Linked DNA regions of Homo sapiens. The protein of the gene in region 1 interacts with the protein of each later gene in a biochemical or structural test. Each region holds a gene or a part of one and is shown in the gene's direction. Other genes may lie near its edges.

The links.
Region 2: of the proteins of EZR (region 1) and CAPN1, one has a biochemical effect on the other in vitro, tested with the Homo sapiens proteins (one study listed by IntAct).
Region 3: the proteins of EZR (region 1) and CD44 form a complex in vitro, tested with the Homo sapiens proteins (one study listed by BioGRID).

The regions. Positions count from the first base shown.
Region 1 is NC_000006.12:158,770,835-158,774,484, reverse strand, and holds part of EZR (ezrin), read left to right. Parts: intron 1-3,077; coding exon 3,078-3,241; intron 3,242-3,590; coding exon 3,591-3,650. UniProt on the Homo sapiens protein: Probably involved in connections of major cytoskeletal structures to the plasma membrane. In epithelial cells, required for the formation of microvilli and membrane ruffles on the apical pole. Along with PLEKHG6, required for normal macropinocytosis.
Region 2 is NC_000011.10:65,188,281-65,191,930, forward strand, and holds part of CAPN1 (calpain-1 catalytic subunit), read left to right. Parts: intron 1-133; coding exon 134-208; intron 209-305; coding exon 306-466; intron 467-3,650. UniProt on the Homo sapiens protein: Calcium-regulated non-lysosomal thiol-protease which catalyzes limited proteolysis of substrates involved in cytoskeletal remodeling and signal transduction. Proteolytically cleaves CTBP1 at 'Asn-375', 'Gly-387' and 'His-409'.
Region 3 is NC_000011.10:35,229,445-35,232,960, forward strand, and holds the end of CD44 (CD44 antigen isoform 1 precursor), read left to right. Parts: 3' UTR 1-2,958; downstream 2,959-3,516. UniProt on the Homo sapiens protein: Cell-surface receptor that plays a role in cell-cell interactions, cell adhesion and migration, helping them to sense and respond to changes in the tissue microenvironment.

The DNA.
Region 1 (3,650 bases):
CCATCAACAAGGCAAAGCTCCTACCCTGGTGAGCCTACATTTACGTGAAGGAAAGGGTTAAAAAGGCAACTGAGATGCTTCCTGGTAGTAAATTTAACAGTACAGCTGTGATTAAAAACTAAGCCGGATCAGAAGATGGGGGTGAGATTCCTTTAGGCAGGTTGGGCAGGAGCCACACTGAGGAGGCAGCATTTGCCTTGAGTGGGCACTGCTGGTTTGAGGAGGTGGAGTTCTGTCACCCCCACAGCACCCCAGGGCTGCTCGAGGCACTGCCCCACCTCAGTCTGTAAACTTTGGGCAGAAGAAGTTCAAGTTTTCGACATCGAACTTTCTTGTAAAAAAGAAGAGGCCCAAAGTTTGAGGCGGTGGGATTCCTTATCTTGTGTTGACTTTCACGGGTCATCTTCACCCCAGGCGGTTTCTGCTGTGAACTCACAAATGAGTCTTTGTCCAGTTCTCACCCAACAACTGGCGTCTCCTTTTTAAAAGCCAGCTTCTCTTCCCTGCCAAGGTGCATACAGCAGTTTGGGGCCACACTTTGGCTCTTTAGATGGGACCTTGTATACAGCTGACACGGCCTGCCCAGGTGACACTATGAGGGGCTGAGGCGGCTGCCTTTTCCCTTTCAAAAGGGCGTTTTGTTCCTGTGGCCTTGTGGAAAAGGCAGAAGGCTCTGAGGCATCTGAAATTTGGAGAAAGTAAGCAGCGTTTCCGCTCTGACTCCTCGGACGCTTCCCCCACGTGACCTTCCCAGGAGCCCCGCTGCCTTTTTGCCTCCCGCGGCTGCCTCCTGCCATCTCTGCGGCCAGATGAGCCTTGGGATTGGCCTCTTGTGGGAGAGTTTCCTGGCATCCTGGGGACTTGAAAAGGGGCTCTTTTACCTTCTCTCCTTCTGTATTTGTAGGGTCTTGGGTTTATTTTTCTTGAACTTTCCTTGTGCCTGGTTTGCATTTTTACCTTGCTGGTCCTCGGCCAGTTTAAAAACCCTGCTCCAGGTCTTGTCGTGTTGTGGTTCTGCATCAGGAAGCTGCATCCTGCATCAGGTTAGGGACTTGGATTTAGAAACATTTCAGTATGAGTCTTTGTTTTAACTTGAAGTGAGAAACCGGCTTCCTTCAAAGGCACTGGGAGAGATTTCCTGCCAGGCACCATCCTCCCTCACCCACTGGCAGTGGACTCCCCAAATTCTGGTTCCCGTTGCTGGCAGGACCTGTCTTCTGCAGGGAAAGGGAGAGAGGGAGACATTGTTATGTTAACCATTGAGGTTTTTCATTGATCCCCCCACCCATGCACCCCCACAACCCCATAAAGGGGAGTTGGTGCTAATCAGCGTTTTCTGAGTCAGGGCCTATTTGGTAGAGTCCTCCAAAGCTGTAATGCAGGATTGTTTCCTCTTGTGTAATAAGGGATAGGTGGGTCATAAAAATGCCGATTGCTCCCAGCTCCACAGACTCCTCCCTGGGAAACCCAATGACTTAACAGCAAGGGTGTGAAACCCCAAAGACAGCCCCACCCAGGAAGTTCATGGGCTCTCAGGGCTTGGCATCACCTCTCACCCTAGGATTTCTGGAACAGATGAAAAGACTGAAGCTAAATAGATTCTTCTCGGATGTGTTGATGAGCCCGCTCAGCCGGTTCCTCGTTAGGTCTCAGAAGTTGCTGTGGGATATATCGCACTGTTTTTTTGTTTTAGCCACCCTGTCCCTCTGTTCCAAATGGTCAGAAGCTGGATGCTGGGGGCCCTGAGGTTAAGAGGAAGCCAACAGAGTCACTGAAAAATAACTTTTCATGGGAGTTTCTAAACCATATTCTTCTGTCTTGTAAGCTAATCACAGCAGTAGCAAGGAGTTGGGACCAAGATTGTCAGCTGTGTCCCAAATGTTTCCAGTCATGGTCACGAGTTTCCCGAAGGCTGTGATTCTGCCTTGTTTTCCAGGAGGCTCCTCTGGTTGTGGTCTTGCAAGGCACTAGCAATTGGAGTGACCGCTGTGTGTGTCAGCCAGCTCTTCCTGCGCCGAGCACCTCCTGAACGTCACCGATAAGGCGGGGACGCCAGCATCTAATGGGACTGCTGGGAGGATTGAGTCCCATATCTGAAGTCCCTTGAGATACCGGCATCCCTGCCTTATGGTTGAAGGCACTGAGCCTGGTGAAGGGATGTGCTCAAGGCTGTGGAGCTCGCACGTGGCTGTCTGTGCTGCACGAGCTGGCAGTGCCTGGCAGGTACTGCACACCTCAAATACCCTGGGAAGATAAGAGATGAGTGAATGTGTGGCCCCTGCCCTTGGGAGCTGATGGCCTCATAGGAGTGAGATGCTGAAAGGAGTCACTGGAGTGAAGTGACAGTGCCACTGCGGCGAGTACCTGTAGCTGGTGTGGCAGGAGCAGGGCTGGATAGCTTTGAGGAGAGAGAACCGAGTGCACAGCGGAGGCTGGGCCCAGAGCTGGAAGGTCTCTGTGTGGGTTGGGCCCAGGCCCTGGAGCTCATCCTGGAGCTCCCAGGCTGGCAGTGATGGGTCGGGGTGGTGACCCAGTCAGTGTAGCAATAACAGTGTGGGAGGGGAGGCTGTGGCAGAGGAGACAGGAAGCCCAAATAGCAGCAGAGGCAGTCCAGGCAAGCATCGGGGATGGGGAGCAGCAGTGAGGCTGGAGAGGACATCATGAAAGGTGGCTACCTGGAAGAGCAGGCAGCTCTGAGACTTGAAAGGTTTCCCAAGGCTGAGAGTTCTCACCTTGGAAAAGCTTTGCAGTTAACGTGCAGTGGCATTTCAGTGTGCATGCAGGATGTCCCTACCCACACACAACTGCACACACACGCGGCACCTGCCCTTCCTCCACCCGTCCCAGAGAATGCACTTTCCCAGTGCTACATACCCACACATAACCGCACACACACGCGGCACGTGCCCTTCCTCCATCTGTCCTGGAGAATGCACATTCCTAGTGCCGAGATGCTGCCATCCCTGTTCTGCTACATTTGTTCTTTTAGAAAAGTTCTGGACCTTTGTGAAGGATGGTTTGGAGAAGAAAACCAAACGAAGGAGCTTGAGTCCAGGTGGCCCTGTTCTGTTTTGTAGGACTTTGTGTTTTATGCCCCACGTCTGAGAATCAACAAGCGGATCCTGCAGCTCTGCATGGGCAACCATGAGTTGTATATGCGCCGCAGGAAGCCTGACACCATCGAGGTGCAGCAGATGAAGGCCCAGGCCCGGGAGGAGAAGCATCAGAAGCAGCTGGAGCGGTGAGCGCGTGAGGCCAGAGTGGGGGGGGCCTGTGTTCTCCCAACTCAGCCACTGGCAGCCAGTGCCTGTCAGGTGACTGTGGAGCTGATGGGGAGAGTGTGGTGGAATGGAACCCAGTCACCACGCTGGGATCTTCGAGGCCTTTGTCTCTGGGCGGTTGCTGTGGTGCTGAGCCTGTTGTCAGCCCTGGAGCGGCTGCTCCGTCAGGCAGCTCAGGCTGGCAGCAGGCTAGGGTGGCCCTCAGGATACCAAGTCCATCCTGGAGCTTCAAGTACCCGTGAAGTGTGTTGACCCCTCACTTTCCTGCCAGAGTCTAAATCTCCCTGTGCCTCTTTTTCCCTGCACCAGGCAACAGCTGGAAACAGAGAAGAAAAGGAGAGAAACCGTGGAGAGAGAGAAAGAGCAGAT
Region 2 (3,650 bases), on another chromosome or scaffold:
AACCTTGGCGCTTGACCTTGAGGAGGCCACCTGGGCTGGGCCGGGGGAAGACAGGCCAGGGTAGACAGGCCCCAGGGACAGAGGCCAGGCAGGTCAGTGCCCACCAGCCCTGGCAGAGCCCTGCTCCTCACAGCTCCTCAGAGTGGAACAACGTGGACCCATATGAACGGGACCAGCTCCGGGTCAAGATGGAGGACGGGGAGTTCTGGTGAGCGCCCCCTCCCCTTCTACCCCACCTCTCCACCCCTACACATCAGCTCTGTGCCCTGACGGGCTGTGCCTCACCTGTGTACCTCCCACCTCAGGATGTCATTCCGAGACTTCATGCGGGAGTTCACCCGCCTGGAGATCTGCAACCTCACACCCGACGCCCTCAAGAGCCGGACCATCCGCAAATGGAACACCACACTCTACGAAGGCACCTGGCGGCGGGGGAGCACCGCGGGGGGCTGCCGAAACTACCCAGGTGCACAGGGGCGGGCTCTGGGTCTTGCTGCTTCCTGGCTTAGGGGCTCCAGAAGGCACGTCATCTTACTGAGCCTCCGTTTCCTCACTTGCAAGATATAGGCTGATCTCTTGAATTTGCTTTGAGGAGTAAAATATTAAATGTCCTAGTAAATTTTAAAGAGGCATGCTTGACTCACCGTCTTGGGGCCTGAGCCCAGGGTGCTCATGAGGGGCAAAGATCTTGTGGCCATCCAGCCACCTGCCTGTCACTCCTTTCCTGGGCCCTTCCCTCCTGCCTTCGCTTTTTTTTTTCTGAGACAGAGTCTCACTCTGTTGCCCAGGCTGGAGTGCAGTAGCGTGGCCTTGGCTGACTACAACCTCCATCTCCCGGATTCAAGCAATTCTCCTGCCTTAGCCTCCCGAGTAGCTGGGATTACAGGCACCTACCATACCCAGCTAATTTTTGTATTTTTAGTAGAGGCAGGGTTTCTCCATGTTGGCCAGGCTGGTCTCGATCTCCTGACCTCAGGTGATCCGACCACCTTGGCCTCCCAAAGTGCTGGGATTACAGGCGTGCGCCACTGTGCCAGGTCCCTTCTTGCCTTCTCTTGCCACCTTTCCCTGGGCTTCTAGATCCATGTGGCTGATGTGGGCCACAGCCTGGCCTCTCAGTTCCTTGTCACTCTCACTGCAGCACGCTTTTTCTCTACCTTAGCTCAGCCCCCACCATGAGGGCACCAGAGCTGCCTTGTCTTGCAAACACCCGCTCTCTGACCTCCACCTTCGACTCTTTCCACTCCCTTAGTCTTCAACCCTTCGACCAAGCCAGTCCGTTGAACCCATCACTTGCGTACCATCCTGCCTCTCCCATCTTGCCTTCTCTCCTTACCTAGGTTAGAGCTATCATTTTAATCTTGTTCCTACAAACACTTTCAGTTCCCTGGCCCCTGTCTCCCATCATCTGGCACAAAACCCATCTCCACTGGCTTGGGAACCATTGAGTGTGGCAGGAGAGAAATCACATAACCGATGCCATATTTTCCCTGTAAATTCTTAGCCACAAATCTCAAATGAGCATTTTCCATAATCCCCAGCAATTCCACTACTGGTTAGTAACATTTCCACTCTCACCTCGATATCTCCCCACTGTTACTCTCACCTTCGGGCCTGGCCTTGCACTTCACTGAAAAGATAGACTTCATCCTGCAGGACACCTTGTGTTCCCACCTCCAAATCCCCCAGCCTTCTGCACCTGTGCCTGTGTCCTCATCGCCTCCCCACCTGCGACAGTGGCAGAACAGTCCCTGTTCATGGGGACCCCCACGTCTGCTCCAGATCCCATTCTCCCTCACCTCTGAAAGCATTTGCTCCTTCATCTGTCACCTCTCTCTCCAGTGTCATTACGGAGAGTCCTCTGTCTTAACACAAAGCAACCCTCTCGACCCCACTTCCCTGTTCATTTCTCCGCCCTCCTTCAAAGCACAATTTATCAGGAATTACCATACTCCCTATTTCCTTTCTCACTTCTGCTTCATTGCTTAACCCTTCCCAGTCCAGCTTCATCCCTACCATGCTGCTAAAACCACCCTCTCAAAGGTCACTTAAGCTTTGGCCTTGCCAGATCCGCCGCTGCTCTGTCCTCCTGTGCTGCATCCTCAGCACGGCTCCCTGCCCTCTGTTTTGAAGCATTCTTCTCCCTTGTAGGGATCCAATTTCAGTCTTTCCCCAAATAGATAACCACCGTTCCCTGTACCATTTATTGAGAAATACATCATCTCGTCTCTCCCCAGCAGCACTAGCGCCCTCAAGTAGTCCTGAGGTATGTGTTGGTCTGTTTCTGGACTCACCATTCTGTCCCTGGGTCTATCCCTCTGCCGATAACACATTGAATCCATTACTACAGATGTGTAAGTCCTGCTGTTGGACAGGGCAAATTCCTTCTTCAAGAGTCTCTTAGCTGTTTTTTTTGTTGTTGGTTTTTTTTGTTTTTGTTTTTGTTTTTTGAGACGGAGTCTTGCTCTGTTGCCCAGGCTGGAGTGCAGTGGCGCGATCTCGGCTCACTGCAACCTCTGCCTCCTGGGTTCAGATGATGCTTCTGCCTCAACCTCCTGAGTAGCTGTGATTACAGGTGCCCGCCACCACATCCAGCTAATGTTTGTATTTTTAGTAGAGACGGGGTTTCACCATGTTGGCCAGGCTGGTTTCAAACTCAAGTGATCCACCTGGCTTAGCCTCCCAAATTGCTGGGATTACAGGCGTGAGCCACTGCATCTGTCTTAGCTGTTCTTGACCTCTGTTTTTCCAAATGAATTTTAGAATCAGTTTACCAAGTCTTTTGAAAAACCATTTTGAGATTTTAATTTGGAATTACATGAAACCTATAGACCAATTTGGGGAGACTTGACATTTTTATAATTTTAAGTCTTATCCAAGGATATGGTGTATCTCTTCATTTATTTTGGCCTTTAATGTCTTTCAATAGAATGTTGTATTTTTTATCATAAAGAATTTATACATCTCTTGAGATTTAATGCTAGGTACACTATAATTTTGTTTCTATTATAAATAGTATGTTCTTTAAAATTACATCTCCCAAGTGATCTTGTTGCTCATACGATAACATGCATTTGACCTTTTAGATGTAGTTTTTATATCCAGCAAATTTTTTAAAACTAATTAATCTTACTGATTCATCTGTATGTATTTTTTGGCACGATCTTAGCTCACTACAACTTCTGCTTCCCTGGTTCAAGTGATTCTCGTGCCTCAGCTTCCCGAGTAGCTGGGATTACAGGCGTGCGGCACCACACCTGGCTAATTTTTGTATTTTTATTAGAGACAGGGTTTCACCATGTTGGCCAGGGTGGTCTCGAACTCCTGACCTCAGGTGATCTGCCTGCCTTGGCCTCCCAAAGTGCTGGGATTACAGTGAGCCACTGCGTCCAGCCCTTTTTGGTTTTCTAATTAGGAATATAGCATCTGCAAATAATGACAGATTGTTTCTTCTTTTCTAATTCTTACAACTTTTGTTACTTTTTCTTGTCTAATATGCTGCCTAGAACTGTAGAGCTTCCTGCTCTTGTTCCTCCCTTTTTTTTATTCTTATTTTTAGGAGCAACCCTATTAACTAAGCCTCACTCTTAAAGGGGAAGTTTTCACCACTAAGTACCTTTCTAATCTAGGTTTTTTGTGGATACCTTTTA
Region 3 (3,516 bases), on another chromosome or scaffold:
TTTAGCATAAAATTTTCTACTCTTTTTGTTTTTTGTGTTTTGTTCTTTAAAGTCAGGTCCAATTTGTAAAAACAGCATTGCTTTCTGAAATTAGGGCCCAATTAATAATCAGCAAGAATTTGATCGTTCCAGTTCCCACTTGGAGGCCTTTCATCCCTCGGGTGTGCTATGGATGGCTTCTAACAAAAACTACACATATGTATTCCTGATCGCCAACCTTTCCCCCACCAGCTAAGGACATTTCCCAGGGTTAATAGGGCCTGGTCCCTGGGAGGAAATTTGAATGGGTCCATTTTGCCCTTCCATAGCCTAATCCCTGGGCATTGCTTTCCACTGAGGTTGGGGGTTGGGGTGTACTAGTTACACATCTTCAACAGACCCCCTCTAGAAATTTTTCAGATGCTTCTGGGAGACACCCAAAGGGTGAAGCTATTTATCTGTAGTAAACTATTTATCTGTGTTTTTGAAATATTAAACCCTGGATCAGTCCTTTGATCAGTATAATTTTTTAAAGTTACTTTGTCAGAGGCACAAAAGGGTTTAAACTGATTCATAATAAATATCTGTACTTCTTCGATCTTCACCTTTTGTGCTGTGATTCTTCAGTTTCTAAACCAGCACTGTCTGGGTCCCTACAATGTATCAGGAAGAGCTGAGAATGGTAAGGAGACTCTTCTAAGTCTTCATCTCAGAGACCCTGAGTTCCCACTCAGACCCACTCAGCCAAATCTCATGGAAGACCAAGGAGGGCAGCACTGTTTTTGTTTTTTGTTTTTTGTTTTTTTTTTTTGACACTGTCCAAAGGTTTTCCATCCTGTCCTGGAATCAGAGTTGGAAGCTGAGGAGCTTCAGCCTCTTTTATGGTTTAATGGCCACCTGTTCTCTCCTGTGAAAGGCTTTGCAAAGTCACATTAAGTTTGCATGACCTGTTATCCCTGGGGCCCTATTTCATAGAGGCTGGCCCTATTAGTGATTTCCAAAAACAATATGGAAGTGCCTTTTGATGTCTTACAATAAGAGAAGAAGCCAATGGAAATGAAAGAGATTGGCAAAGGGGAAGGATGATGCCATGTAGATCCTGTTTGACATTTTTATGGCTGTATTTGTAAACTTAAACACACCAGTGTCTGTTCTTGATGCAGTTGCTATTTAGGATGAGTTAAGTGCCTGGGGAGTCCCTCAAAAGGTTAAAGGGATTCCCATCATTGGAATCTTATCACCAGATAGGCAAGTTTATGACCAAACAAGAGAGTACTGGCTTTATCCTCTAACCTCATATTTTCTCCCACTTGGCAAGTCCTTTGTGGCATTTATTCATCAGTCAGGGTGTCCGATTGGTCCTAGAACTTCCAAAGGCTGCTTGTCATAGAAGCCATTGCATCTATAAAGCAACGGCTCCTGTTAAATGGTATCTCCTTTCTGAGGCTCCTACTAAAAGTCATTTGTTACCTAAACTTATGTGCTTAACAGGCAATGCTTCTCAGACCACAAAGCAGAAAGAAGAAGAAAAGCTCCTGACTAAATCAGGGCTGGGCTTAGACAGAGTTGATCTGTAGAATATCTTTAAAGGAGAGATGTCAACTTTCTGCACTATTCCCAGCCTCTGCTCCTCCCTGTCTACCCTCTCCCCTCCCTCTCTCCCTCCACTTCACCCCACAATCTTGAAAAACTTCCTTTCTCTTCTGTGAACATCATTGGCCAGATCCATTTTCAGTGGTCTGGATTTCTTTTTATTTTCTTTTCAACTTGAAAGAAACTGGACATTAGGCCACTATGTGTTGTTACTGCCACTAGTGTTCAAGTGCCTCTTGTTTTCCCAGAGATTTCCTGGGTCTGCCAGAGGCCCAGACAGGCTCACTCAAGCTCTTTAACTGAAAAGCAACAAGCCACTCCAGGACAAGGTTCAAAATGGTTACAACAGCCTCTACCTGTCGCCCCAGGGAGAAAGGGGTAGTGATACAAGTCTCATAGCCAGAGATGGTTTTCCACTCCTTCTAGATATTCCCAAAAAGAGGCTGAGACAGGAGGTTATTTTCAATTTTATTTTGGAATTAAATACTTTTTTCCCTTTATTACTGTTGTAGTCCCTCACTTGGATATACCTCTGTTTTCACGATAGAAATAAGGGAGGTCTAGAGCTTCTATTCCTTGGCCATTGTCAACGGAGAGCTGGCCAAGTCTTCACAAACCCTTGCAACATTGCCTGAAGTTTATGGAATAAGATGTATTCTCACTCCCTTGATCTCAAGGGCGTAACTCTGGAAGCACAGCTTGACTACACGTCATTTTTACCAATGATTTTCAGGTGACCTGGGCTAAGTCATTTAAACTGGGTCTTTATAAAAGTAAAAGGCCAACATTTAATTATTTTGCAAAGCAACCTAAGAGCTAAAGATGTAATTTTTCTTGCAATTGTAAATCTTTTGTGTCTCCTGAAGACTTCCCTTAAAATTAGCTCTGAGTGAAAAATCAAAAGAGACAAAAGACATCTTCGAATCCATATTTCAAGCCTGGTAGAATTGGCTTTTCTAGCAGAACCTTTCCAAAAGTTTTATATTGAGATTCATAACAACACCAAGAATTGATTTTGTAGCCAACATTCATTCAATACTGTTATATCAGAGGAGTAGGAGAGAGGAAACATTTGACTTATCTGGAAAAGCAAAATGTACTTAAGAATAAGAATAACATGGTCCATTCACCTTTATGTTATAGATATGTCTTTGTGTAAATCATTTGTTTTGAGTTTTCAAAGAATAGCCCATTGTTCATTCTTGTGCTGTACAATGACCACTGTTATTGTTACTTTGACTTTTCAGAGCACACCCTTCCTCTGGTTTTTGTATATTTATTGATGGATCAATAATAATGAGGAAAGCATGATATGTATATTGCTGAGTTGAAAGCACTTATTGGAAAATATTAAAAGGCTAACATTAAAAGACTAAAGGAAACAGACTCAGAAGTCTCTAATTTAAAAGAATGGGAGGCTGAGAGGGACAGAACTATGCTTATCTGGCACCGTCTGGGTAATTTAGAGGAACAAAGTCAAAGGTATCTGAGGTGGCTGAAGCCTCACACTCATTTTATTTTTTAAAAAAGCAAAAACAAAATGGGTTTCCATCAACTTGAAAGTCTTCTTTTGGAGAAAATCTGGTTTTCTATGAGTGATGTGTGGTTCACATGTTTCAAACTAAGTGAGATACAGTGAAGTGTTAGTTCTTTTAAAGCCAAGAACTACTCCTGGACTTCCAGTTAAAGAGAGGAGAGTGTACATACCTTCATTCCCTCATGTAAGCCTCTAAAAAGAAAATAAAGAGATATTTCCAGACGGAATCAACCAGTGGAGTTAAAGAGATTGGAAGAAGAGACAAGAGCAACAAAAACTTGAAGCTGAAAAGTGATAGCTGATTGGTAACTGAATGAACAAGTCTGGAAAAGCTGACTCCTAAGCCTGCAGTGTGGAAAATTGAGAAACAACCAGACTTATGTGACAGAACCATCAAAAGGCTCAAT